2 separate regions of the Homo sapiens genome follow, and region 1 is linked to region 2. The links come from fine-mapping of genetic effects on gene expression. A gene starts in region 2. The other region holds a variant in brackets. All regions are shown on one strand. Distances are from middle to middle.

Region 1 (9,396 bases), 23 kb after region 2:
AATCAGGTTTTCTTTTAAGAATCAATCATGTCAGTCTGCTTAGAAATAACAGAAGAAAATAGAATTGACATTGAAATCTAGGAAAATTATTCTATAATTTCCATTTACTTAAGACTTAATGAGACTTTAAAAGCATTTTTTAACCTCCTAAGTATCAAGTATAGAAAATCTTCATGGAATTCACAAAGTAATTTGGAAATTAGGTTGAAACATATCTCTTATCTTACGAAAAAATGGTAGCATTTTAAACAAAATAGAAAGTTGCAAGGCAAATGTTTATTTAAAAGAGCAGGCCAGGCGCGGTGGCTCACGCCTGTAATCCCAGCACTTTGGGAGGCTGAGGCGGGTGGATCACGAGGTCAGGAGATCGAGACCATCCTGGCTAACACGGTGAAACCCGTCTCTACTAAAAATGCAAAAAAAATTAGCCGGGCGTGGTGGCAGGCACCTGTAGTCCCAGCTACTCGGGAGGCTGAGGCAGGAGACTGGCGTGAACCCAGGAGGCGGACCTTGTAGTGAGCCGAGATCGCGCCACTGTGCTCCAGCCTGGGCAACAGAGCAAGACTCCATCTCAAAAAATAAAAATAAATAAAAAATAAAAAAATAAAAGAGCAAACTATTTCCAAATACCATAGAATAACTTACATAAAAGTAATATAACTGTATTGTAAGTAGAAGCTAGCACTGGTTTTATTAATTTAGTGACTATTCATTTTATCTAAATCAGTGAAGATTTACTGTCATTGTTTATTAGTCTGTATATATTAAAATATGATATCATTAATGTACTTACAAAATAGTATGTCACTGTTTTTATGTTCATTCTTAAAAACATAACCTGTATTAATAAATGTGAACATTTGCTTGGTATCTCTTTGGAACAAATTAGTATTATATCTTTCTGGTCCTGGCACACTTTAAGGGTTTAACTGAAGAGCATTTAATGAAGAGGTGATTTACAAAGGTGTAGACAGGGTTAAGGGAACCAACGGGGACTGGTGAAGCACCCCCCAGAGACTAGCAATCAGGGGAAGCCATTACTGCCAAGGCCCAGGTACAGGAGGGAACACACTGACGCCTCTCCCTCACCCTCTGATCTCTTGGGAGGCCTCCCCTTGATCCTAATCTTAACCCAATACCCAGAGTGAAGTAGTCCATAAAGATCAGCTTCCTTTGCCGTGGAGAAGGGATCTGGAAGAACAAATGCAAGGAAAAAATAAAACAAACAGCACCATTTCTGCCAAAGACATTGAGTGATTAGCTCTCTCTCTCTCTCTCAATCCCTTCTTAAGAAAATTTAAGCTTATTGAGAATATATTCAAATTTCTGAGTTATAGACATCATGGGTAGTGTCTGCAGTTCTTCCCTAGTGAGAGAGAAATTAAATGTCAGAGCAGAAAGGAAATCCGTAAAATGGCTGTGCTGTCTTCTCTGGCTGAATGACAGTCCTTTGCTGTCTAGCACTCCCTCAGGCAGAAGGGAGGAGGGGAAATTTAAAGCAAAATGACTAGTACTTCTCAAGGTTGAAAATAAAAAAATTTTTGATAAATTATTTCTAGAGTCATAGTCAATGAAAAAATTATTTCAACTAAACAAGGATTTTGTTAACATACAGAATTTTTATAAGTTAACACACAAGCTTTTTAAGTTTCTAAGGCCTGGACTTTTCACGTGTGTTTCAAGGAATAGATTGAGTTCAAAAAACCTTAAATTTTGCTAACACAAAAATTTTTTTTGTCCAGGCATGGTGGCTCACGCCTATAATGCCAACACTTTGGGAGACTGAGGCCAGAGGATCATTTCAGACCAGGAGGTTGAGACCAGCCTGAGCAACATAGTGAGACGCCATCTCAATTAAAAAATAAATAAATAATTAACCTGGCACGATGGCATGCCTGTGGTCCCAGCTACTCAGGAGGCTGAGGTGGGAGGATCGTCTGAGCCCAAGAGGTTGAGGCTGCAGCGAGCCATGATTGCACCACTGCAGTCCAGCCTGGGCAACAGAGTGAGACCATGTATCCAAAAAAAAAAAATGTTTTTTCCACCAAGCTAAAAATAGCATTTTTAAGGAAATGGAATGCTTGGCTATTGAATATACACTTGGAAAATTTTAGGTTATACTTCTGAATTTAAGAAATTTTAAAAACTGTTTGCCGTTGGCATGTCTTTGAGGAAGTTGAGCTACAGAAGCAAGTGGAAAAGGTTAAGCAGCATTGATGACCAAGCTATTTAAGTTTCTGGGGCCTGGACCATCCATTAGCAGCTTATCTTCAGCCAGGTGCTGTCGTGAAAATTAAGGGGAAAAACAGTTCACCAATGGTAATTTCCTGGCATAATTAGCCTGTTATGTGGCTATGCCTTTTGAAACTACTAGACCAAATGTGTGTGAAGAGTAATTGACCACAGGATAAACCTAATTGTGTTTTGTGAAGGAGGTGTGGTTAAGTGAGCTGCAATGTGAGAAGAGAGGAGAAATTCTCTAATGCAATTATTCTCAGAGTTCCTGAGACTCTCAGGAGATCTGCAAGGTCAAACTCTCTTCAAATACCAAGATATTATTTGCCTTTTTTGGTCTGTTTCTCTCATAAGTGGACAGATGAGTTTTCCAGAAGCTACACAACATGTGAAAGTGCAACAGATTGAATGCAGAAGCAGAGACGAAAATCTGACTGTCTCCTATTACACCAGTCATTAAAGAGATTGCAAAAATGTAAAACAATGCAACTCTCCTCCTTAAATTATTGTTTTGGGAAAAAATTTTGAAAAATATAGTATTTATTTTAACATGTAATGGGCTTATTGTCATTTTTAGCTGAAATAGATATTTTCAAAAGTTCTCCATTTTAATGTCTAATATGGAAAATATCAGTAGATAAAATCATTGGCAGCAGGGTGCAGTAGCTCACACCTGTAATACCAACACTTTGGGAGGCCAAGCCAGGCGGATCACGAGGCCAGGAGTTCGAGACCAGCCTGGGCAACATAGGTAAACCCCATCTCTACTAAAAATAAAAAACTTAGCTGGGTGTGGTGGTGCACATCTGTAATCCCAGCTACTTGGGAGGCTGAGGCACGAGAATCACTTGAGCCTGGGAGGCGAGGGTTACAGTGAGTCAAGATGGCATCACTGCACTCCAGCCTGGACGACAGAGCAGAGCAAGGCTGTCTCAAAAAATGAAAAAGAAAAAAAGTCAGTGATGTGCTGCTAAGCAGGATCTCCACAAAAAGAAAAAAAGCCTGATCTGGCAAACTAGCATTTGCCAATTTTGATGGTGTGAATACTCCCTTCTTTTCCAGTTTCAAGCTCCCAACTGTTTAACAGTTGGCTTGACAAATTTCCTGAATATTGAATTCTTGTGAGCAGGTACAAGTTGACTCCAGCACACCAATGGATGCAACCCACATAAACAAAGGCTCTTTGCTGGTCCTCAATAATTTTAAGTGTATTAAGGTGTTCTGAGCAAAAGAAGTTTGAAAACCACTGCCCTTATCCAAGATGTCCCAACTTTATTGACTTGAAGAAAACAGATAAACTGGTAATTATTATAAAAGCATAAAAGCAAACAGGGGTAAAGAGTTGGCTTAGAGCTGCAGGCACCACTCTGGGTTTCTGGCTGTTTCAGAGCTGAGGGGTTCCAAGTCTTGGAGCAAGAAACTGATTCAACATCCAGGCTCAGTGGCTCACGCCTATTATCCCAGCACTTTGGAAGGCTAAGGCGGATGAATGGTTTGAGCCCAGGAGTTCGAGACCAGCCTAGGCAAAATGGCAAAACCCCGTCTCTACGAAAAATACAAAAATTAGCCGAGCGTGATGGCTCATGCCTGTAGTTCCAGCTACTTGGGAGGCTAAGGTGGGAGGATGGCTTGAGCCTGGGAGGCGGAGGTTGCAATGAGCCAAGATGGTGCCACTACACTTCAGCCTGGGTGACAGAGTGAGACCCTGTCACAAAAAGAAAAGAAAAGATACTGATTCACGTCATCAGGTATGGTGTGGTCCACAGAACAGGAAGCTCTGTGTGAGGTCTGATTTTCAGCCA[C/G]CTGCTGTGTAAAGGAAAGAGAGAGGTGCTTGCTGAGCAAAGTTTCAGACCAGAAGACCAAGAGACAATTCAGAACAGCAGCAGATTCTACCCATGGTGGCATTCCTGTAAAGTGAAACTCAAGCGCCAAGTTTGTTGTCATGGGGACTGTTGATTGCATGCTAGTCTTATGGAAACACACGGAAAACCAGAGGTCAAATTCAGTAGCATCTCAGAATTCAGATAACACAGCATGTACAGTTTCAACCCAGCAGGCTGTGTGTTTATCACTTCAGGAAATGACTCATAAGCAGTAAGGAGATGAGCTTTGAAAGCTGCATCTGGCCAGGGCACGGTGGCTCACCGCTGTAATCCCAGCACTTTAGTGAGGCCGAGGCGGGTGGATCACCTGAGGTCGGGAGTTTGAGACCAGCCTGGCCAACATGTGAAACCCTGTCTCTACTAAAAATACAAAAATTAGCCAGATGTGGTGGCACACACCTGTAATCCCAGCTACTCAGGAGGCTGAGGCAGGAGAATTGCTTGAACCCAGGAGGCAGAGGTTGCAGTGAGCCGAGATTGTGCCATCCAGCCTGGATGACAAGAGCGAAACTCCATCTCAAAAAAAAAAAAAAGAAAAGAAAGCTGCATCTATAGTAGCCTGCATGGTGGCAGGGCCAGTCTGGCTGTTTTGCCTATCTTAATGACTACATCTGCAGGTCATTTTGGTGTGCTGCTATGCGACCCATCCAAGGAAGTGAAAACACCACGAAGGGTGGGCTGTCCAATACTGAGATGCATTCGTGAGCAAAACCATAATCATTTGATATCTATTTTTGTTGTTTTGTTTCCTATCCTGGGATATCTAGTTGCTCTTGAAACTAGCTGACACATATTTTAAAAAAAACAAGACAAATAATATATTCCCATCCTCCAGAAGCTAACTGGCTTTGGGATTTAATCCTAATACTTAATGTTTAGTTAGGAAGCACAAAATTTGAAGACCTCAGATTTAGAATTTTATCAGCTCTGCCTTGTAACAAGTTTTAGAAACTAAATCAGTTGGCCAGGCCTGGTGGCTCATGCCTGTAATCCTAGCTTTTTGGGAAGCCAAGGCGGGCGGATCACCTGAGGTCAGCAGTTCGAGACCAGGCTGGCCAACATGGTGAAACCCTGTCTCTACTAAAAATACAAAAATTAGTCAGACATGGTGGCACGTGCCTGTAATCCAGCTACCCGGGTGGCTGAGGCAGGAGAATTGCTGGAACCCGGGAGGCAGACGCTGCACTGAGCCGAGATGGCACCACTGCACTCCAGCCTGGGCAACAGAACGAGACTCTGTCTCAAAAAAAAAAAAAAAAGAAAAGAAAGAAAGAAAAGAAAAGAAACTAAATCAGTTCTCAACTCTGGTTGCGCATAGAATCACTGGAGAGCTTCTAAACAATTCCAGTGCCAATCTCTGGGGGCGAGGCCTGGACATTGATATTGTTTTCAAGCTCCTCAGAAGATTCTGATGTGTAAACCAGGGTTGATACTAAGAAAAGAAAAATCCCTCAGCAGTCTGAGCTATGTGAGGTGTGCAAAATTTATTAGGCCCAGAGAGACGGGAGTAGAGGACTTCAGTCACACCCCCGGCACATACCCTCCCCCTACCCACCACCCCCCATGCCTGTGGGCAATTATTTAAAGTCATTTTGTTCCTGGTGGTGTGGTAGCTCATGCCTGTCATCCCAACACTTTGGGAGGCCGAGGCGAGAGGATCCCTTGAGGTCAGGAGTTTGAGACCAGACTGGTCAACATGGTGGAACCCCTACACTCCTAAAAATACAAAAATTAGCCAGGCATGGCAGCATGCTCATGAAATCCCAGCTACTCGGGGGGCTGAGGCAGGAGAATTGTTTGAACCCAGGAGGCCAGAAGGTAGAGGTTGCAGTGAGTCAAGATGGCGCCACTCCAGCCTGGGCAACGGAGAGAGACTCCATCTCAAAAAAAAAAAAGGCATTTTGTTCCTGACTAGCTACATTCCCTGTTATCTTCATGTTCCTGGAATCTGTGATACAAAGAACAATGTGTATCCAATCAACAGCTTATGTTATTTTAATGTAAATTTTGATAAACAACTTAGGAACTGCCTCTTTTCCTTTATAAACATTCACATGCAACTGCTGCTAATCAGATTGTATATTCAGGACAACTTGAATATACACTTCAATATACACTGGGTTGCAGTCCTCAAGCTTGGCCCAAATAAACTCTCTACTTATATTAATTTTGACTCAGCTTCTTCCTTTTAGATCAACAATACCACTGTTTTTGAAAAGTGCTTCTTAGCTTATATACTGCTGGTGGGAATGTAAAGTATTAGTTCAGCCATTGTGGAAAGCAGTGTGGTGATTTCTCAAATAATTTAAAACAGAATTATCATTCAACCCAGCAGTCCCATTATTGGGTATATACCCAAAGGAATAGAAATCATTCTACCATAAAGACATCTGCGCACAGGTGTTCACTGCAGCACTATTCACAATAGCAAAGCTATGGAATCAACCTAAATGCCCACCAATGATAGACTGGATAAAGAAAATGTGGTACATATACCCCATGGAATACGATGCAGCCGTAAAAAAGAACAAGATCACGTTCTTTGCAGCAACATGGATAGAGCTGGAGGCCATTATCCTAAGCCAACTAATGCAGAAACAGAAAACCAAATACCACATGTTCTCACTTATAAGTGAAACTAAACATTGAGTACACATGGACACAAAGAGGAGAACAACAGATACCAGGGCCTACTTGAGGGTGGAGGATGAGAGGGAGAGGACTGAAAAACCACCTATCGAGTACTATGCTTACTACCAGGGTGATGAAATAATCTGTACACCAAACCCCCAAGACACACAATTTACTTATATAACAAACCTGCACATGTACCCCTGAACCTAAAGTAAAAGTTTTTTAAAAAAGAAAAGAAAATAGTGTTTCTTGGCCAGGTGCAGTGGCTCACATCTGTAATCCCAGCACTTTGGGAGGTGAAGACAGGAGGATTGCTTGATGCCAGGAGTTTGAGAGTTTGAGACCAGCCTGAGCAACATAGCAAGACCCTGCTAAAACAAATGTAAGAATTAGCTGGGTGTGGTGGCACACGCCTGTAGTCCCAGCTACTCAGGAGGCTGAGACAGGAGGATCCTTTGAGCCTAGGAGTTCAAAGTTACAGTGAGCTGTGATCTGTCTGCTTCTCAAACTTTAACCTGCATACAAATTACCAGAGTCTGCTGCAACTGGTCCGAGGCTGGGTCTGCCTGTGTAACAACTTCCCAGGTAAAGTTAAAGTTGCTCCTTTTGGACTATGCTTTGAATAGCAGTGCTCTCAGAGATAGCCCCGAGGCAGAATTTGGCTAGGTTGCAGGTCCAGGGATCCAGAAAATCAATTCTCATATTCTTAAAATCATTTTCTGAGACAATTTTTTTTTATTCTGAGAAAATTGGGGCAATTTTTAATGTAGTGGCAGCATATGTTCTTAATCAAAATTTGTTGTAGGTGATATCTATCTTGCTGTATGCTTCCTCTCCTCTTTCTCCCTTCTTTGGTTCTTTTCTAGGGAAAAAGATAGCTTAAATGGCTCTAATCTTATACATAAAACCATTTCAGAAGACACTGGGGGTTTAAAGTGGCAACTCCCATTTTTTAAAGATAGTGCCCGGCAGATAGCGGCAGCGCCTGGTTACCAGAAAGCAACTGTGGATATTTTTCCTGTCTCTGGGTCTGGCTGAAAAATGGTGACCTCAGGGAAGCACTAGGGTGCTACTTAGCATTCAGGAGCTTCAGTCTTGATGGAGCTGGAATGAGAAGTTTTGCAAACCCAAAGGCAAATGAGTCAGCCCAGGGATCATCATCAGAGGATCCATGATTCCACTGTGCCTGGGGAAAACCAAAGATTTTGTTAATCAACTCTGGGAACACATTTACAGCACATTCAGTAAACTTGGAGTAAATTCGTCATTATAGAAGCCCTCTTACAAGTTGATTGAAAAAACTAAATGATGAAAGAAAAACTACAATTTGTTAGCCAACGTGGGAAAAAATGTTACATCTCAGCGATAATCCAATAGCTGCAATTTAAAACAAGATAACACCGGCTCGTGTCCAATTAACAATGATCTTTTTCTATGATGGCTAAAACAGCTCCCTAATAAGTATTACAGAAGGAATGGAGGAAATAAGGAAAATAATATAAATACCAGAAAGGGTAAGATAATGTCGGTGGACACACTTTAGGAAAGCAATTTGACAAAATGTCATCATCCTTACATGTTCATAACCTTTGACCCAGTTGTATGACTTCTGGGAATCTATCAAGAAATAATTACAAATAACATCAAAAAAAGTAATAGGCTTCTGGTTGTTAATAGCAGCCTTATTTGCATGTTAGCAGAAGACAAAATTCCTCTAGATGTGTAATTTTAAAGGACTTCTCCAGAGACTATTATACCCTTTAACAATGAGACGTTTTAAGTGTATGTAACGACACAGAGCAGTGCTTATAATGTTTAATTTTTTAAAAAATAAGATGCAATGATATACAAGCAGTACAAAACCAACAAGATGGGGAAAAATAGATCTAAGTCAAGGCAAAGACTAATGAGAAATATACCAAGATGTTTAAACTTGCGTTTTGGTAATTGGGTCATTTTTTTTCCTTTAAAGTATTTTCTACTTCTCTCTTTCCTGAGTATGTACTGCCTCTCTAGCAAAAAAGCAACCCACATTAAAACAAAAGTAAAATAATCTGAAAAAACAAACAAATCTTTCTGACCATCTCCTAGCCACAATTAGTATTTTGTGCCTCAATATATTATTCAAGCAGGAAATAATGGTGTTAGGAAATCATATGATTCTACATATAGTTGACATCTTCAAGATTCTCCCAAAATATCTTGTGGAACTCTGAAATTCTCAAAAACATAAAAATATCTTTAGCCATGGCCAGGTGCAGTATCTGACACCTGTAATCCCAGCTACTTAGGAGGCTGAGGCATGAAAATCGCTTGAACCCTGGAGGTGGAGGTTGCAGTGAGCCCAGCCTGGGCAACAGAGCGAGACTCTGTCTCAAAAAAAAAAAAAAGAAAAAAAAAAAAAAAAGTCATTAGCTATACTCTGAAGCCAGAAATGTTTCTATTTGTCCCCAGCAGCTACCAGAACATTCAGTACAGCATTCTGTCATCATAACCAGAGCACGACTTTTTACTCTGATAGTCTTTATACTTGTGCCAAAAGGGCTATTCATTTGTTTTCTTCTGGAATTCATATTTCCTCATCAAGCAGCAAATATTATTTTTGCAAAACAAAACAAAAACTTTGACTGATTTTATTGCATAG
Region 2 (9,396 bases):
CCGCTTAAGGCATTCTTAAACCACAAACAGTAGCATGAGTGATCTGTGCCTGGACATGTTCCTGCTGCAGATAACTAGCAAGAGCCATCCCTTTGTTTTGGCCCATCCCTTTATTTCCCATAAGTAATACTTTTAGTAAATGTTATGACTGGCTTGCTGTCAATAAATATGTGGGTAAATCTCTGTTCGAGGCTCTCAGCTCTGAAGGCTGTGAGATCCCTGATTTCCCACTCCACAATCTATATTTCTGTGTGTGTGTCTTTAATTCCTCTAGCACCGCTAGGTTAGGGTCTCCACCACCGAGCTGGTCTCGGCAGTCGGGAGTTCGAGATCAGCCTGACCAACATGGAGAAACCCAGTCTCTACTAAAAAAAATACAAAAATTAGCCGGGCATGGTGGCACATGCCTGAATCCCAGCTACTTGGGAGGCTGAGGCAGGAGAATCGCTCCAACCCAGGAGGCGGAGGTTGTGGTGAGCCAAGATCCGGCCGTTGCACTCCAGCCTGGGCAACAAGTGCAAAACTCCGTCTCAAAAAAAAAAAAAAAAAAGCTCTTAAGAGCACATAAACATAGGAACTTTGTGAAGTCTAAGGACAAAACAAAAAACAACATCACTAACAGACCATAAAATTAGAAATCAGTCACAAAAAGCCAGTCAAAATATCCAAGAATTTATGGTTGAAGATTGAATGAAATTGACAAAATATTTAGACCTGAATTTTATATATGCACATATCAAAACTTGCAAAATGTAGCTGATGTGGTCTTTTGAAGGAGAAGAGGTAAAAAATAATCAGTTCAAAAAATTATACTAAAGAGGCCGGGCGCGGTGGCTCACGCCTGTAATCCCAGCACTTCGGGAGGCCATGGCGGGCGGATCATGAGGTCAGGAGATCGAGACCAACCTGGCTAACACGGTGAAACCCCGTCTCTACTAAAAATACAGAAAAATTAGCCGGGCGTGGTGGCAGGCGCCTGTAGTCCCAGCTACTCAGGAGGCTGAGGCAGTAGAATGGCGTAAACCCAGGAGGCGGAGGTTGCAGTGAGCCGAGATCGCGCCACTGCACTCCAGCCTGGGCGATACAGCGAGACTCCGTCTCAAAAAAAAAAAAAAAAAAAATTATGCTAAAGAGTAAACTCAAAGAAAGTAGAGGAAAAGAATGAATTAAAAATCTGTGTTTATAAATAAAAATAAAAGTAACGGAGCAAAAAGACGGGCATTAGAAAATAGTCATTTCTGACCTCTGGTCAGATAAAGGGAAAAAAGCAAAAAATTAGCTATGTTAGGAATATAAATGGGGACAACACTACAGATAAAATAGTTTTAGAAGACTAAAATTTATTATATGTATACAAGGGAATAGTATACTATTTAAAAAGAATTAGATAAACATGTACCAAACAAGCCTCAAAAAATACAACTGGCAGAAATATTCCTAGAAGGAATCCTTTAGTCAATATGCACAAAGCATTTAAGCATTTCATTATTTTTGTTTTTTTTTTTTTTTTTGCTTTTGTTTTTGTTTTTTTGAGACAGAGTCTTGCTCTGTTGCCCAGACTGGAGTGCAGTGGTGCAATTTTGGCTCACAGCAAACTCTGCCTCCCAGGTTCAAGTGATTCTCCTGCGTCAGCCTCCCAAGTAACTGGGATTACAGGTGCACACCACCAAGCCCGGCTAATTTTTGTATTTTTAGTAGAGACGGAGTTTCTCTATGCTGGCCAGGCTGGTCTCTAACTCCTGACCTCAAGTGATTTGACCGCCTCAGTTTCTCAAAGTGCTGGGATTACAGGTGTGAGCCACTGCACCCAGCCTTCATTGTACGTCTTTTTGTCACTAGAGGTACATTTTGTTCTAACAACTAAGACCCCAAAGCATCCTTTTAAGCTTTATCGTTTTGTAAAATGGTTAAAAATAACATTTTCCACCAATGACACAGATAAAATTTTAAAATGTGGTGGTATTATTCCATTCTTATTTTAAGGATATACATATATGCAATTTGTATGTGGATATGATTTTTTGAATGGTGAACAGAAACTTAGTGGTCAGGTAGCTGGATGCGGTGGCTCATGCCTGTAATCCCAGCACTTTGGGAGGCTAAGGCGGGTGGATCACCTGAGTTCAGGAGTTTGAGGCCAACCTGGCCAATATGGTGAAACCCAGTCTCTACTAAAAATACAAAAAATTAGCCAGGCGCGGTGGTAGGCGCCTGTAATCCCAAGTACTCGGGAGGCTGAGGCAGGAGAATCGCTTGAACCCAGGAGACGGAGGTTGCTGTGAGCCGAGTCCGCGCCATTGCACTCCAGCCTGGGCAACAAGAGTGAAACTCCGCCTCAGGAAAAAAAAGAAAGAAAGAAAATAAGAAAGACAGAGAGAGAGAGAGAGGAAGGAAGGAAGAGAGGAAGGAAGGAAGGAAGAGAGGGAGGGAGGAAGGAAGGAAGGAAGGAAGGAAGGAAGGAAGGAAGGAAGGAGGGGAAACTTAGTGGTCAGATGGCAACTAGGGGAGGGGAGGCAGAAGGTAATTTATTTTTCATTTCATATCCTTCAACTATCAGAAATTTTGTCATATGTGTTTATATTTTCCACTGTGTTTCATTGATTCTAAAATGCCTTTTCTTCATAACCCTGAAATTGGAGTGTTTCTTACAATCATTGGTATGTCACATTTTTTTCTGGCTTGTGGTAATGGGTTAAAATGATAAATTGTAAAATCAATGACGTCTTAGGAATAATGAAAAATAGTTTAATAGTGAATGAAGAACTATGTAATTTTAACTGTTCACATTTACTCTTGGGTATGTTTCCAGAGGATAACTGAACGGGGATAGATTTTAAAAAGCTTTATTTAACTGGGTACTTCCGCAATTTAGTGATCAACTTCTGTGTACAACAAGGTACTGTCCTTTGAGGATGATGGGAGAATACAGGGAAGAACGAAATCGCCTCTGATCGTACTTTCTCCACGGATGTAAGTGTCCGGGCTCTAGTGGGGGAATGATACTCTTCGTGCGAAATTCACTTTTAAAAAAGGCTTAGAAAACTGACCACCGGCTCTCAGCTGCAGCTTATCAACCACAGAACTCCGAATATGCCCGCACATCAGTGCGCTGGGTTAAGAGGAGAAGGGGCTGCGGCTGAGCTTTCCTAGAAACAGCTATTTGGGGACCCATTTCCTGTTGGAGTCTGAAAGGCGCACGCACCAGAGCCAGTGGCAAAGCAACTTAAGCTGCAGGCTCCTCCTGCCCACCCCCAGCCGCGACGCCCCTGGGGGCCCTTAGCAGACTGCCAAGCGAGTGTCCCCGCCCTGTGCCTTGAATTTAGCCAAACTCCTTTAATATCAGGCCTGGCGCGGTGATTCACGCCTGTAATCCCCGCACTTTAGGAGGCTGAGGCAGGAGGATCGCTTGAGGCCAGCAGTGAAATTAGCCGGACATGGTGGCGCGCGCCTTTCTGTGGTCCCAGGTAATCCGGAGGCTGGGGCGAAAGGGTGGCCTGAGCCAGGGAGATCGAGGCTGCAGTGAGCCGTGTTGGCGCCACTGCACTCCAGCCTGGGCGACAGGGCAAGACCCTGCCTCAAAAACAAAACAAACTGTAATATCGTTCAAGAACGTGTGAAGGACACTTGGAAAGTTACCAGGCCATTTCTCTCCTGGGCGCCCGCGGCCCTAGAACGCCGGCCTCACCGGCAGACGCGCGCCCTCCTCCCAGATGCGCAGGTGACCCCGGCGGGCGGCGCGGGAAAGGGAAGAGCTCCGCGAGGCCGCGCGGGGGGGAAGCGGGAGAAGCCGCTCTTCCTATTCCACTCGCAGTCTGCGTGTGGGGGAAACGAGTGCCCGGCGTATGAAACGCCTAACTTCGCGAAATAAAGAGAGACGTATAAAAGTTCAAGAATTCTGTCCAGACTCAAGGGCCCTTTCTCATTTAGGGGCAACCCTGTCACTACATCATAAACTTTTAAATCCGTGATCCCCACGTTACAAAAGCAGAAGTCCCTTTTAGACTTTTAGCGAAAACTGAACTTTGCCGGTGTCCCACACGGAGGGAGGGAGGACGGGAGGCCACGCCAGGGCTGCGGGGCTGCAGGGCGTGGACGCATCCTGGCCGGGGCGTCCACTGTCGACGTCTCCACATCCCAGGAGGGTCGAGACGGCCGCGGGAAGCAGCCTGCGAGCCGTGCGGCCCCATTCCAAGGACCCCGCCAGTGTGAGTCACTGACAGCTTCGCGAATCAACGGTGCCCAGAGGAAAAAACTTCTCATTTGGACTTCTAGGCCCGGCAGTGGCCGGCGGCCAGGGCCCCCCAGTAGGGCAGGGCGGGGCGGGGCGGGGCGCACAGAGCCAGAGGGGCTTGCGAGCGGCGGCTGAGGGACCGCGGGGAGGGGGCGCCGAGCGGCTCCAGCGCAGAGACTCTCACTGCACGCCGGAGGGCGCCCTTCCTCGCTCGCGCCCGCGCGACCGCGCGCCCCAGTCCCGCCCCGCCCCGCTAACCGCCCCAGACACAGCGCTCGCCGAGGGTCGCTTGGACCCTGATCTTACCCGTGGGCACCCTGCGCTCTGCCTGCCGCGAAGACCGGCTCCCCGACCCGCAGAAGTCAGGAGAGAGGGTGAAGCGGAGCAGCCCGAGGCGGGGCAGCCTCCCGGAGCAGCGCCGCGCAGAGCCCGGGACAATGGGGCCGCGGCGGCTGCTGCTGGTGGCCGCCTGCTTCAGTCTGTGCGGCCCGCTGTTGTCTGCCCGCACCCGGGCCCGCAGGCCAGGTGAGAGATGCACGGGAATGGGGTGCGCGGGCGGAGGGACGCCGAGGGGAGACTGCGGGGGTCACTGTTGCGCCTTCTCCTCACCCCTGCCTCAGTTTCCTCCGAAAGCCAAACTGGCATTTGGGCTGAGATCTGGAGTTTTTTCCAGTCACGTTTAGGTGGGGCGTGCCACCCCCTTCGCGGGCCCAGCCGATGCCCCTTTGGACTCGATCTTGGAGGGTGCAGCCCGCCTGCCACGGGGTGTTGGATATGGAGGAGGATGGAGCGGAAGCCCCCTGGGGGAGCCTGCAGTCCTGCGTTGCACTTGTCATTGTGTTTCTCCCAGGACCACCCCCAAAAAGAAAAGCTCTCACGTTGCTCCACCAATAAACGTTTCGATCTTTAAAATATAAAGTGGCGAACCGCTGCCGCTGAAGTTTTGCTTTGTTGGAAGTTTTTTTCTTGCACATTTTACAGGCGAGAAAAGTGATGTAGAGAAAAGCCCAGGCAGTCCCTTGGCATGTTTAGCAGAGAATCAGTACCAGCAGCCCCCGGCCCGGCCTTGTGTCCAGGAGGTGCGCAGGGTGCGAGATATATGGTGACAATAGCAGAGGCTCCGCGTGGTGGCGGGGGAGGGGACATGGAGAGGATTTTGTTGTTACCTAGAACCCATTCCTTCTAAGTGAGTTGAAGAGAGAGATCCCTCCCCAGGACCGGGCTCCCTCGAACACTGTGGGATCCCAGTATTTCTTAACGAGATTTCTGATCCACTGCAAGAAGGTTGCTCCCCTAGAATATTTTCCCCACTAGTAGTCTATTTTTAAGTATCTGGCCACTTGACCAAATAAATAAATTTGATTAATTTATTTGGTCAAATATTTTCTGTATCCCTTTCCCCAAGAGCAGCACAGATGAGTTGTTTTTAGCCTGTAAAGGCGCTAATTAGAAAGTGAGAAAAGTGTTTTTGAATTTCCTAATAACAATAGTATTTTATAAGCTTTGAGCCATTTTTTTTACGCTGAAAGAAGTTCTAGCGGGTTTTCTTGTTATCGCTAAAAGAATGTGCACTCTATATTGCTCCCACACTCAAAAAAAAGTGTAGACACATCAAGATTAAGAGGTGACAAAGACATAGCATGTTCTCGCCTCTCTGTCTTTGTTCAGGGTGAGTTTTGAGATGCTTTTGGGAAAACTAAGAGCTCCAGACTGGGGCCCAGTGTTTAGCAGTAACTAGCCTGCCTGCAGATAAGTGAGCATTGTTGCCGAAAGTGTTTGAGAGAACACCGAGAACTCCTGAAAAATTGTTTGCGATGAGATATGATTTCACATACCATTATGTAATTTGCACAATGTAGTTTGAGGACACGCTCTTGAGAATCCAGTGTTTTGTTTGAGATTTGGATCATGGGGTGGAGAACAGAGCTTATAGAAATGCTGCACCCTTTCTCACAGTGGCCTCCCAGCAAGGTGTGTAGCCTCATTAGGGAGTGAAGTCAAAGCGTACTGGTTTCTGCCAAGCTTCTTACATCCTCATGGCAGGAGTGGTGCATGTTAATATGGACAGTGCTGGTGTAGACAGAAAGGCAGGTGGATGAACTTGGCTAGTTTATCAACACTGGATTCTGGAACCACTTTGGGAGGGAAAGAAGAAAGGAGTATGATAGAGGAAAAGGAGCGCTTGCTAAGTGCCATATTCCATGTCAAGCCCTGGGCCAGAAGGAATTTTCACTTGGATTGTCTCATTTCACCTTGTCAAAACACCTTGTTAAGGTGGGTATTTATCCCCTTTTGCTGATTCTGCAACTAAGACCCAGAGACAGCGGCTAAGCAAGTGGTGGCGGGTGGGGCAGGGAAGGGGCAGTCCACCCACCCTGGGTGCAAGCAATTAGGAATAAGTGGGGCTTTGTCTTTAGAAAATTTAAAATCACTAATAAAATCAACCCAAGATAGGTTTACTTTCTATTACCACCATGCATTGACAATTCTAAGCATTGTCTGTCATAAGGTAGTGGTGCTGGGACTCTGAGGCATCCAACAGTGCCTCCCATCCTTGAACCGCCACCGCTGTGATAGAGTTTATTGTCCAGGATTACCAGCTCTGTGTGCCAAGAGGGGCGGTGAAGCCCTCCCAGGGCTGGCCCTGACCACCAAGCTGAGCCTTCCTCCAGCACTTCCCGACTTTTTGTTCCCACTCATTTTGGCATTTCCTGCCTTGTCACTTTGTGTGTGTGTCTCATTCTCCCAACTAAGATTATAAAGTTTTATTTATCCCCATGGTGACTAAAACAAATGTTCACTCAGCAGATAGTTGTTGAGAAATGTGTAAATTCATCAACCAGTTTACATTCGTCTAGACAATTTAAGTGAGATGATATGTGATCATTAAAAGGGCCAACATCCAAGAGTAAAAGGTGATGTTTATAAATTTTATGGGGCTCTAGAGGGTTAAAGTGTTCAAGAATAGCTGGTGGTGACTATGACAGAGAGAACTTGGTGGGCAATTCCACTTGCTACCCTCCTACTCACAGAGTCAAGCCCAATTCTCTGGCATGGAATGAAGTGCTCCTCCCCTTGCAGGAGGGTCCCCAGCCCCTCTCCAGCCATCTCCTATTACTCACCCTCCAGTTCACCCAGCCCCATCCTCTAGATCCTCCCTTCAAGGAGCTATGCTTTCTCTGGCTTCTGTCCGCATGCCACTCCCTCTGGCCAGAATGCCCTCCCCATATCCCATACCCGCCACGTTCATGTTTAATTAAAAACAGCTACCCTCTGTGGAGTACTGACTACAGCTGACATCCTTCTTAGGGACGTTACAATACTATCTTATTTATTTCTCACAACAGCCCTTTGAGTAGATGTCATCCTCATTTTACTGGTTATAAAACAGAGACCCAGAATGGTTAAGTCACAAGTTGAGAAAGAGGTGGAATTGGGACTGGGTGCGGTGGCTCATGCCTGTAATCCCAGCACTTTGGGAGGCCAAAGCAGGGGGATCACTTGAGGCCAGGAGTTTGAGACCAGCCTGACCAACATGGTGAAACCCTGTCTCTACTAAAAATACAAAATTAGCTGGGTATGGTGGTGCACACCTGTAGTCACAGCTACTTGGGAGGCTGAGGCACCAGAATTGCCTGAACCTGGAAGGCAGAGGTTGCAGGGAACTGAGATTGTGCCACTGCACTCCAGTCTGAGCAACAGAGTGAGACTCTCTCTCAAAAAAAAAAAGAGGTGGAATTGGGAGTTGACCACAGGCCTGTCTCTCCGAAGTGCAGGCTTTCTCTAACACCCCCTATAGAAAGGAAGCCATCTAGACTCCCAGCACCTCTTACAGTAGAGAAGTAACCCCACTGTGCTCCCTAGTACAGTATGGATTTACCTATTTTTGATAATTCATCAAAATATAGAAGCAAAGTCTGTGCCCTATCGCCTTGGTAGCTCAGGCCCAGCACAGGGAGGTATTTAGTGAGCATTTATGCACGGACTGTGGTATTCTCTCATTTACTTTCGCTAACAGATGATAAGGCAGGCTCTGAAAAGATCCCTGCTCATGAATACACTAATTAATCAGATGTTACAAGAGATATTGCTAGTAAACCTAAACAGAAAGACAGAAAACTGAGCAGTGGTTCTACCGTAAGCAGACCAGAAAGCTCTATAAAGCCTGAAAGTCAGATTTCTTATGAGTCAGCAAGTAATTTTCTGCCCTACTATCTATCTATCTATCTATATCTAATAATTTTTAGTGGCTTTGCCTTTATTTTTATAGAACATACCAGCATAGCAGGTTCTCAGGGTCTGGGTGCAGTGGCTCACACCTGTAATCCCAGCACTTTGGGAACCCTAGGCCAGATGATCGCTTGAGACCAGCCTAGGCAACATAGTAAGACCCCATCTCTATTAAAAAAAATAATTAAAAAGTAGCCAGGCACTGTGGTGTGCACCTGTAGTCCCAGCACTTGGGAGACTGGGAGGATGGCCTGACCCAGGAGTTCAAGGTGGCAGTGAGCCATGGTCACGTGACTACACTCCAGCCTGGGCAACAGAGTGGGAGAGACGCTGTCTTCAAAATATTTAATAAATGAAAATTTTAAATTTAAATTAATCATTTAAATTTAAAAAATAAAATAATAAAATTGAGGTAGAATTCACATAACATAAAATTAACCATTTTAAAGTATACAATTCATTGGTATTTAGTACATTTACAGTGTACAATGTACACTGTAAACCCCTACCTACTTCCAAAATCCTGTCATTTCCCCGAAAGGAAACCAGTAAGCAGTCAGATCCCATTCTCCCTTCCCCTACCCCCAGGAACCACCAGTTTGCCTTTTTTCTCTATGGATTTACCTATTTTTGATATTTCATATCAATAGAATCATATAATATGTGGTCTTAGTGTCTGGGGAACTTAACTTTAGGTGGGTTAAAGTTGTTGTTGCTGTTTTTTTGAGACAGGGTCTAGGTGTCTTACTCAGGCTGGAGTGCAGAGGCACAAATTTGGCTCACTGCAACCTCTGCCTCCCAGGCTCAAGCTATCCTCCTAACTCAGCCTCCAGAGTAGCTGGGCTACAGGCACCTGCCACCACGCCTGGCTAATTTTTGTATTTTTAGTAGAGACGAGATTTTATCACACTGCCCAGGCTGTTCTCAAACTCCTG

What was found. PIP is the estimated chance that this variant, and not a neighbour inherited with it, causes the effect.
Region 1: its variant is fine-mapped to the expression of F2R in whole blood (TOPMed, PIP 0.98).

The regions. Positions count from the first base shown.
Region 1 is chr5:76,734,901-76,744,296 of GRCh38, forward strand. F2R (coagulation factor II thrombin receptor) reads left to right here. Exons shown (of 2, transcript NM_001992.5): 2 at 1-870. Among named protein-coding and RNA genes, the nearest start is that of F2R, 23 kb to the left of the region's middle. RefSeq lists enhancers at 4,020-4,349, 4,450-4,519, 6,653-6,732. The variant C/G (reference allele first, on the strand shown) is at 4,038.
Region 2 is chr5:76,711,640-76,721,035 of GRCh38, forward strand. F2R (coagulation factor II thrombin receptor) reads left to right here and starts at 4,487. Exons shown (of 2, transcript NM_001992.5): 1 at 4,487-4,756. The coding sequence starts at 4,669. NCRUPAR (non-protein coding RNA, upstream of F2R/PAR1) reads left to right here and starts at 764. Exons shown (of 1, transcript NR_028375.2): 1 at 764-1,249. RefSeq lists a silencer at 4,293-4,542 and enhancers at 6,336-6,836, 6,837-7,337.